Regions from separate parts of the Homo sapiens genome. Here region 1 is linked to region 2. Evidence: fine-mapped expression QTL. A gene starts in region 2. The other region holds a variant in brackets. All regions are shown on one strand. Distances are from middle to middle.

Region 1 (5,390 bases), 340 kb before region 2:
TAAAAGTGTACTTAGGACACAGAAATATTCACCAGTAGTGGGTGTATAAAGACATCCTTAAAGCCACAGTTTTACTAGAGAGGATCCCACCAACAGGAGATAGGGCAGTGGACCTCTTGGAATAGCAACACCATTTGGGTAGCAAGGATTATATCACAGGTACCTGTGGCTTCAAATATTACCCAAGTACTCTCTCTTTGAAACAGATTCAAAATGCAGTCTGGAAGGATTTTCAGCCATTGTGATATTTTTAATGTGTATAATCTTTGTAGCTATCTCTCTATTCCTTTACTTACACTTCAGTTTGCTAGATTATTTCTAATATGCTTAAGATTTGTAATGGAGGTCAGTCTCCAGGTTTGGCCAAAGGAGTAACAGCCAAAGTTTGTGAGTTGAGGAGTTATACTGTCAAAAGGTAACCCAGTCCTTAATTTCACTTCAAATATATGGAGATCCCAGTACAGTGATTAAAGACATTTTCATTCAACTCCAAATTCCTTGAAGACATAGGCTGTATCAAGTCATTCATGTAACTTGTAAGAATAATTTCACTTGTATTAGATTTATTTCTTTTAAATGTCCTAATGCAACCAGACTTATTCCGTAAAAACTACACTGAAGGCAATAATAATAAAATTGTCGCTGTAGAGAAATTTGAAAACCCAGAACACAGTAGCTCAGCCCTGTAATCCCAGTGCTTTGGGAGGCCAAGGTGGGAGGATGTCTTGACACCAAGAGTTCAAGATTAGCCTGGGCAACATAGCGAGGCCCTGTCTCTACAAAACAAAAGTAAAAATAAAACCCAGAACACACTAAGAGAGGAAGGAGGGGATTCAATATTCTGCCATAATCCTGACTGAACTCCAAGTCGTTACTGACACCCCACTGATGCCTTATTGAAAATAGTCAGTGTTTGGTTGTAAGAATTTTTCCAGAATTTTGACTTTGAAGTATTTCTTTTCTATTGATTTCCATCATCCTTTTGTTTGGGAATTTGTTCCCTTATTCCTAAATACTTTAATAGCCAGCTAACCGTCCTTCCTCCCTCTAGTTTGCCACATGGCCTCTGGGATTAAACTTCTTAAAACACCACTTGATTGGGCTTTAGATCTTCAATGGTTTCTTTCAATCACTGGATCCTGGATCCATAAGTCCTCAGTGAAGTCTGCCTAAATCCTCTCTCCATCTGAAAGCATTCTTTCTTTCCTTTAAACATTTTCTGTACCCTTTTAATGGCTTCTGATGCAATTCTACTTTTATTACAGTAATTTTCTTCCATAGCTTGTCTTCTGGACTCTACTGTTCTACTGTTGATGTCATGTCTGTGTCTGATTCATCTCTGGTTCCCATCAGGCTCCTGGTAAGAATGCTGAGCACATAGGAGCATAATGCTTTGCTAAGTGAATATTTGTAGGATGAACCAATGGAGACTCTCAGCACTCTAGAAATAGAACTGATAATTTCAGATTCTATAGCCAGTGCAAACTATATGTAATGGTCTTAGCCAAATATATTTATTAAAACCTTGGAACTCTGATCTTATACCTAAGATTCTGTTTAGCAATGAGGTGCAGTGAATTATAAAGCATGACTCCTAGGACATTGTGCTGACTGGGTGGCCAAATATTTACAAAACAATCCAGTTAACCATTGGCTTAGTTTTATCATCCATGAAATGGGGAGAATATCAGCCTCATGTTATTGTTGCTGTGGCTGGCCAAGACATCCTATGTGAAAATGTTATGAAAAGTTACAAGAACTATATAAAGATTCGGGTTATTGTCTTATTTTACAAACACCATTACTAAATTGATTATTTGCTTATCTGCTTCTCCCACATTTTTGCATATGTGAATATATGGACAGGGCTGGGTAAGGTGGCTCATACCCATAATCCCAGCACTTTGGGAAGCCGAGGCAGGAGGATCACTTGAGGATCAGGAGCTCTAGACCAATCTGGCCAACATAGTGAAACCCTGTCTCTACTAAAAATAAAAAAATTAGCCAAGCTTGGTGGCATGTGCCTTTAGTCCCAGCTACTTGAAAGGTTGAGGCATGAGAATCGCCTGAACCCGGGAGGTGGAGGTTGCAGTGAGCTGAGATTGCACCACCGCACTCCAGCCTGGGAGACAGAGTGAGACTCCATCTCAAAAGTGAAAAATAATAAATAAATAAATGAACAAACAAATAAAAATGAGGGAAAAATCTATTTAAACAGTGCTGAGACAAAATATTTTAGTATTCTTTACTATGCCTCTAAATATTTGATAGATTATTAGTAGACATAAACATAGAAGACACTATTTCACATTTGCATGTTAATGAAACATTATAAATTATACATTATTTTCTATGTGGAGTACTGGAACAGTATTCATTTTTTTATGGCCATAAAAACTTAGATTGTCTCCTGAAACAGACATCAAATCCCCTTCTGTAATAGTGCCAGAAAGATCTGCAAGCTTTTTAAACCATCTCTAGTGAAATCACATAGATTTGTTTGTGCCGCTTTGCAACACGCTAGTGTGAAAGTTCATTTTAAACAAAACAGTTTTAATAATGTCATTACTAATGTACATTTGGTCATCACTAAAA[A/G]ATGGGGTTTTAATATGAATGTTTCATTTTAATAAACGGCAGAGGAAGCAAGTTGCCCTGAGTCAGCAGGAAGTGGTTATACACCAGAGAACAGCCTGATTGTGTTAGATTCATCCAGAACACTGAACAACCCAGAGACGGTCCAAGAAAAAACAACTGGCTTTATTCAAATGATTAGGCTTACTGCAGCTCAATACTGAGATTCACACATTCTCCTATTATTTCTTGACCTTGTGCCAGAAACTCCCACTTACAGTAATAATTAGAATTAGTGTTTCCAGTGCATGCCTCCATCTTCCTAACAAACAGTAAAAAAAAGTGGCGCTTACAAACTATGCAGTTAATGAACATTTTCTTTATTTTGTTTGATTAATACAGCACAATTTCCCTAAATCTTTACCATTACACCCAAGTATATCTTACTTTTATAGCTAAATCACTACAAGTACCACTACTAGTACTGTCAATACTAAAATTTTGAAAAGAACCAGTGTTTCTTTCTACCTCTCATTAAATTTTAAGAAACTCCTTTCATTTTCCGGGTCAGAGCACATATGTAAAGCTGTCTTTGACTGCTGTTATTCGGGGTTCTGTGCATTTTTGGTCCAGTAAAGTAGAAAACCGTAAATACCACAAATACTGAATCACAAATGTTGCACTTAGCATATAACACAAATTACTGTGCCTGTTGTTTTAATGAGCACAGTTTGTGGAAAGGTCTGGAAGGGCCCATGAAATCTTTGTAGATGTTGATCAAATGCTTCTGTCTACATTGCCGGTCTGAACCCCTCACCAGGCTTCTCCTTAAGCTCAGCACGCACTTCCACGAGGGGATTGGCAAGAAGAGTCATGTCATATTTATGCGTTCAGTGATTCTTGTAGCTCTGTGGTTATTACCACTCACAGAAGCCTAACACATACATCCTAGGAGTTTACCCTTAGTTGGCAGGACCTAATGGGAAATCAAATAGGAATCATAAGGTGTGAAAAACAAACAGGAGAAAAATAATCAAAACTTAAAGAAATACTTAGTAGAATAAATAGGAAGAGTGAACTGAATTCCTTGTAAGAGATAGAAGTCAGGATTGGAATCCCAAAACCTAGGTTGGACCCCATACCTCTGCCACTAACTGATTTTACTCTGACTGGATGAGGCATCAAGTTAGGAAATTTGGACACTCTGAGCCTTAGTTTTCTTATTTACAAAATTAGGCGAGCAAAATTCCTACTTCAGTCACCTCACTGGTTTGTTGTCAAGAATAAATAAATGGATGCAAGTCTTATAAAGTCTACATGGCTACTGGTTGGTGAGTTTTTGAGTTCATGGCAAGAGACTGTATGGTCAATCCATCACCTTGCTCCCTTGCTTCAAGCCCTTTTTGGCTTCATGCAGCACTTGCTATCCACGCCCCTTGCTTGGCCTACAAGTCCCTCCTAGCCCTGGGCTCTGCTACCCTTTTCAGCATGGTCTCCTACATGCAGCAGCCACATGGGCCTGGGAAGAGGCCAAGATCATTTTCACTTCAAGACCTTTGATATGCAGAGCCCTGTAAATGGAATGCCCTTTCTGGAGAACCTGATGAGGCTGGCCCTTTTTCCTTCTAGCCTAGCTAAATTTTACCTCTTCAGTGGGCCTTTCTTCGCCTCTAGCTACAGTACCTTCTCCCACAGCACTCCCTATCTAACCTATTGTCTTTTTGCAATCTGAAATTATCCTCCCTGCTTCTTCGCTCACCTGATTATCCAAGAGTCCTCACAGAATGTAAGCTAACTAAGAGTGGGACTATTGCCTGTCATGTTCACTGCTTTAAAATTGGCACCTGGAAAAGTGCCCAGCCTGTAGGAGGGACTCAATAAAACTTGTTGACTGACTGATGAATATGACAGTTGGCAGTTCACTGGGAGGGATAGATAGTGGGAAGGGCCCAGCTGGTGTATGAACACCCCGACCACTGCCCTTTTTGTAAACCATGTTAAATGTGTTCTGTGCCTTCATACTATGGCTCCTGGTCTCTTCCTGTCTGAACTACCCATGTATCTCCACTCTATCTTATCTCCCAAGGTAAAAGTAATAATAATAATTATTATTATTGAAAAAAGGAGCAATTATTATTATTGCTGAAAAAAAGGAGCAATATCCTTTTCCTGAGTGATAAATTGACTGATACAAGTCAATTATCTGTCAAGAGTAATAATAATAATTGGGCACTAACTTGTAGCTAAGTATTTTACATATGTAATCTCATTTAAATTCTTAGAATATTTTATTTTTGAGTGAACCAAGGATTAGAGAGATGAAGTAATTTGTAGAAGGTCTCACCACCGCAAGAGGCAGGGCTTGCCCTCAAATGCATGTTGGTGAGAGACTCATGCTATCTCCTGCATCATACTGCTTTGTATATAGCAAAGCCCTTGCGGAGAAGAACTCACACTCTTGCTTCCACACAGCTGGACTCATTTTTTCTTCCCCCCAGTATCCCCTATCCTGGGTGATAAATTGACAGAATTATCAGAGAAATGAATCAGGCAGCTCATGCTCTTGTTTTTTCATTAATGTATATATCTTTTCAGAGGCCTTCTGAATACAAAATAACTGGCAAAGGGACACTCCAGATTGATGATCATAATACTAGCTTACATTTATGGAGCACACACTATGTGTTAGGCATTTGAAGCTTCATGACAACTCTATGAGATATATCATATTTGGATCCCTTCTCACAAATGAGGAAACTGAGCCACAATAGAGTTTAATAATTTGCCTCATGTCACACAGCTAGCAAGTGGTGGAGCTG
Region 2 (5,390 bases):
AAGGTGCCCTATTTGGAAAAGTTGATTGTGGGAAAGGATGATAGTATAGCAGGAATATGGAGGTTGAAATAATGTTTAATTTTATAATCAAGATAAATGGTGTAATTGACCTCATCATATCAGGAGCAGGGAGAATCTGAAATGGTTTGATTTGCACACACTTCATTGAGTCTACCAAAAGCATACTGATATCAAATTGCCCAGGGCTATATATTTATTATGAGAATTCATAATTCCAATCCTGTTACATATGTTTTTTTTTTAATTTTGCTGGATCTTATGGAATAAGGATAAGGGAAGATGAAGAAAACTATACTAAATGTGTCAAAATGCTCCTTGTATCACAACAAAGTGGATGGTTTACTCAATGCAGCTAAATTCTCAGAAGAAAAACTGAAGTCACATCTTTAAAGAGCATTTTTCTTAATGTACTACCTATCTGTAAATAAATAGTTTAAACCATAATGAAAGCAAACTTAAAAAGTTGACTCTAGTTAAATATTGGGAGAGACTGAGTAACTTGTGTACCATCAATTTCCTGAGGACTTGGCCAAATTCTGCCTGCACTTTCAGCCTAACCTGCAGGGGGCAATAGCTTGACACGAATGACAACAAAGGCTGCTGAACTATTAGACTTGAATATCTGACTATGACCCTGGAATGTTGTGTAGGTTGGAAAGAGTGCTTAATTAATGTATATTGAAACAAAAGATCAGGTAAATTGTTTGATTTGTCTTCAAGCTATATTTTTAGACTAATTTAATTCATAACTGTTAGGTTTTTTTTTCCTTAAAGAGATTATCAAAGTTTTAGGAGACACATTCATCTTTAGAATTTTCCTGAACACTAATTGTTTACTACAGAATTTATGTAATGTATGTTACCAAAGAAAAGACAGCAGAATCAAAGTGACCATAGTTTTCAGTGTTCAAATGGATGACAAAAATCAGAGGAAATATGGAATTTTGAGATATATTTAATAAAAGATAGTCACATATCTAGATAATAAACCCTATTTCAATATTTTTTAAACCTATAACTATAAATGGGTGGGGGGCAGTCATCCCATTGTTTGCAATATGTCTTCTTTCCATGTATCAAACATTATTTTTTAAAACTGGTTTAAACTTAAAATCACGATCAACAATTAGTGAGTTATCTCTTTTATTGCTATATATTTTTCTATTACAAGTGGAATAGAATTTATTGGCTATCGATAATCCACACTCTCTTTCCCTCCTTCTCGGTATTTCCACTCCCTCCCCCATCCCTATATTTCCCCATCAACTGATCTGGGAAGACTGGAAACAGACCAAAAGGGGTTTTGGCTAGAGAGAGTAATTACAGAATTAGAAAGGAAAACTCTTCTCATCTCCTCACTGCAATCATACTTAATGTTCATTATGTCAATTTTAAATGATACAAAATGCCTTCCCCAAAAGGCATCCTGGTTTTAAGAAGTCAAAAGGGTACCTGGCATTAAACAACCTTGAATCAATCCTGGTGGGATTAACTGGACTGAGTTTCTGTATACTGCACATGCTATGGATCTACTTTGATCACAGTAAGGAAAAAAATGAGAATAGATTTTTTTTTTAAAGAATTGCTGCACAGGAGTGTTCCGTTTCTTTTATATGGCAGAGTTTGATCTTGATAAAAACCTTTTAAAACATCCTTTTCCCCCCACTATGGTAAAGAGATCATATCTGTTTTTGCTTTTCTTTAAGAAAAGAAAATGGGGATTGCTTACACGGGGAAAGAAAATTTTATTCTCCAACACCCCCTCCCATTCTACTAAACCATTTTAGTCGACATATGTTTGTTATCAGAGAGAGGTGCTGTGAACACACAGCCATTTTCTTAGCAGCTTTTTGACTGTATGTTACCATAGTCCCACAAGGCATTGGTCCTTTCCCATTGGGAAGTCATGAATAAGAGACTATGAAGCTTGCACGTCAGATCTTCCTCAATTAATCCACCATTAGCATGTTTGGGATCCACTACTGGATGGTTAACAGCAGCTTTTGTAACTGTACGCCGACCATATCGAATTATGCTCTGCTAAAAATGAACTCTTTGCAGACCAACCCTCTCGGCTGTCAGTGTTTTCCGTTTTCCTATTTTAACGTTTGTGTATAGTGGCAGGCGACAGATGGTGTAGATCAGATCGATTTGATTGCATTAGATGATTTTTTCCCTTCCCCACTCCTTTCTGGAAGCTCGCATCAGCTGAAGGCTATCGCCTGGGACTCCTCGGAAGCATGAGCAAGCCGCCACCACGCGAAGGCACTGGGGCACAGCCAGCGCGAGGCGCCGAGGTCCCTTCCCAAGGCTTGTTAACACTGTAACCCGGCACTCGGAGAGAAGAAGCAGCTCACACTGCCCAGAGCCTACCTCACTGCACATCAGATGACTCCCTGGCTTCTACACACAGTTGGAGTTCCGCTTGAAACCTGGATTTAGAGGGTAAGCACTTCAATCGAGATGGATTTGTGACAGTTACTTTGCCATACAGCAAGACAAATCTCAGCAAACGTAAAGGATGTAGGATGTATGGCAGAGGCAGACTATGTTTACATCGAAAAATGTGTTTCTTTTTGTCTGAGAACGAGAGTATTATTCAGTAAAGATGTGTATACTCTTTTTCCATTGACTGTAAGAGTCGACTACCACCCTCCTCCCGATTTTTTCTCTCTCCTTGGTGTTTCCCCCTTTCTACTTGAGAGGGAAGGAGAGAGGGAGAGGGAGGGAGTCAAGGGGGAAGAGAAAGAGGGAGAAGGGGGGGAGAGAGAGAGAGAGAGAGAGAGAGGCATTTCAGCTTTAGCTTAATTGGCTTATTTCCTCAAACCCATTGCTTTGTCGCGTTTCTTTATGTATTTTTGGTTGCAAATTGCGAAGCGATTAACTGGGATGGGTGTTGGAGTATGGGGGATAGCATAGGAAAGTACTGGGAACCGTCAATCAGTCGCGGTGGCCTTGAGAGATCAAAAGGTGCTGAAAGCCCCCTGCCCGCAAAACACACCTCTAGTTATTGGGGCGCGAGAGAAATGTAGATTCTAATAAACATGGCTTGCAGGAGTCGATGAACAAAGGTACTTAATGCGGACCTAAGCCTCCGCTGATATTGTTCCGCTAGCAGTATCTAAATATTCAAAAGCGAAGTGTAAGTTGATCAACAAACGCCCTGATGGTATTGGGCTTTTTCCCTTTTTTGTTTTTGTGTGGAGGGTGGAGAAGGGGGGGAGGGTGGATGGGTGGGGGAAATCCGACAGCTTAAGGAGGCTTGAATTGAATATGCACCCAGCGGCAGTGGTCTCGTAGGAAATGGTGTTCTCGTAAGTCAGGCTGCCCCGCTCAAGCACGAGAGAGCTTTGGTTAGAGCTCAGAGCGTCAGTTCTGCTGCGAGTGCTGCCGGCAGTCGGCCCGGGTTGAGCTGTCCATTCGTCCAGGTGCTGAAGCTGGTGGAACATTGGGTAGGTAGGGAAAAGGCTGGCACTGCTACTTGGGTAGAAAGAAAGCATATCAACTGCGTTGTTCTAGTTTCTTAAAGCGTGCGAGTCTGTGGGTCAGTGTGTGTATATATTTTATTTTAATTGTGAGGAAGCAAAACTGAAGGAGACTACTTGGAAAGCATTGAAAAGCTGTGTGGGTATTTATGCTGTGATTCTGATGCCCTGTGTATTGGGGTGTGTGTGTGTGTGTGTGTGTGTGTGTGTGTGTGTGCCTCCCTTGACCATCCTTTTGAGTTTATAACGTTCCATTTACTAAATCCAAGCCTATCTGTATAGTGTGTTTCTTGTTTTCCTTTTAATATTAGTTGAGATTTAAATAGAAGAGTGCAGAAGCAAATGTACACTTTGCTCATAGACTATTGCATTACTTTCCCTAAGGGCTTTTGTTTCTAGGAGTTCAAGCTGAAGAGAACCTGTCAGCTTTCTGAATTTTTTTTTTGTCTAGCACCAGAGAAAAGCTCCACTTTATACCTATGTTAGGTAACAACAGAAAATAGTGCTTATTTATTTGTTTTATTGGTATCTGTCCTTTTGTAAGTGGTGTACTTAAGAGTTATCTGAAAATAATGTAAAACAGTCTGGTAGTTGGGCTATATTGGTTTTCTTTCTAGTTATTTTAGGTTCAGACATTATATATTAAACATCTATTCATAAAACCTAGAATTCATGTTGATTTTTCCATCTGTAAGTAACATGTCAAGAAAATGATGAGTTGGTGTGCCCGGAGAAGTATTATAATTTTTAAAAAAATAAGAGCAAACACAACCTAAGCACCTTAAATTGCAACCAGGTCAGTTAGAGATGAGTTGTGGTAGTGGGAGAGATTCTGTTATATAATTACTCCTTGATGAAGAGCTATTTGCACTTACATAATTTGGGAAATCATAATGTCTATTGCCATGTTTCCATATTCCCCCCCATTCCCCTTACATGGATGTACTTTCATGTATTTGAGAGTAAAGGGGAAAGCAAATTGAGAACTTTCTAAGGAAGCTACACCATGTCTTGGGTAGTGACGTTGCACTTGTCCATTTTATTTAGTGAACAATAAACCCCCATTATCAGAATATCCACTGCAGGATCTTAAGACAAAGCTTTTCCAGTAAGAGCCATATTGATCATCAAAGAATCACAGAGATTCTCTCTCTGAATGCCAAAATTACAGTCACTTTGCAAATGAGTTTTTATTGGCTTTTTCTTCTTAAAATAATATTTATGAACACAGAGCTTCAAAGGTTTTTCTGTAGAGGTGTCCACAACAGCTGTACAGCAATGCATTTATAGTATATATTTTAAAAGTGTGCTATGAAATTAAACATTGTAGTGATATAAAATGATGCTTAAATCATAGAAAGTCTACCAGCTTGTCAACTCAGTGAGTTTTGACACTATGGAAAATGGGTTTAATTACTGTGTGCCTTCAAGCTTTTTTTTTTCTTTAAAAATCATTATGTTGTATAGCTATAAGGCCTTCAAAGGAAAGACGCCTATTTTTGTACATCTATAAGTATTTGATTTCAAGTAGTAAATTGAATGAGTGTTTATTTTCCATGATCTTGGGCTTGAGAAAAGTGCATTTCCAAAACACACTACTGAAAATTTCACCCATGCATGACCTATCTTTATTTAAGCCTCACTTCTTCCCAAAGCCGTCTAGGCAAATATATTTGTATTTGTGTGGGTAACTATTCACGTCTCTTACAGGGTTCTCTGGCCGCCATGGCACTCAATCATACCACCTAGAGTGGACTGGCCGAGACCAGACTGGGTACCAAGCAGAGAAGTGCAGAGGAAAGCACTGGGAGAGCACCAGGTAAACTGAAGGTTACTTGTCACTCCCACTTGTGCCCAAAAAGCCTTGCCACATCTTCCCTCCTC

Which allele goes with the higher level. Positions count from the first base shown, and alleles are read on the strand shown. Sizes are in standard deviations (SD) of each study's normalised expression.
In carriers of allele A in region 1, the expression in fibroblasts of the gene that starts at base 2,151 in region 2 tends to be higher than with G alone (small effect, 0.19 SD a copy in GTEx).

What was found. PIP is the estimated chance that this variant, and not a neighbour inherited with it, causes the effect. A credible set is the group of variants that fine-mapping cannot tell apart.
Region 1: its variant is the best candidate, but not a certain one, in a credible set for the expression of MIR137HG in fibroblasts (GTEx, PIP 0.85).

Annotation. Positions count from the first base shown.
Region 1 is chr1:98,385,934-98,391,323 of GRCh38, reverse strand. No RefSeq gene overlaps it. Among named protein-coding and RNA genes, the nearest start is that of LINC01776, 180 kb to the right of the region's middle. The variant A/G (reference allele first, on the strand shown) is at 2,596.
Region 2 is chr1:98,046,454-98,051,843 of GRCh38, reverse strand. It overlaps MIR137HG (MIR137 host gene), which reads left to right and starts at 2,151. Exons shown (of 5, transcript NR_046105.1): 1 at 2,151-2,466; 2 at 5,217-5,325.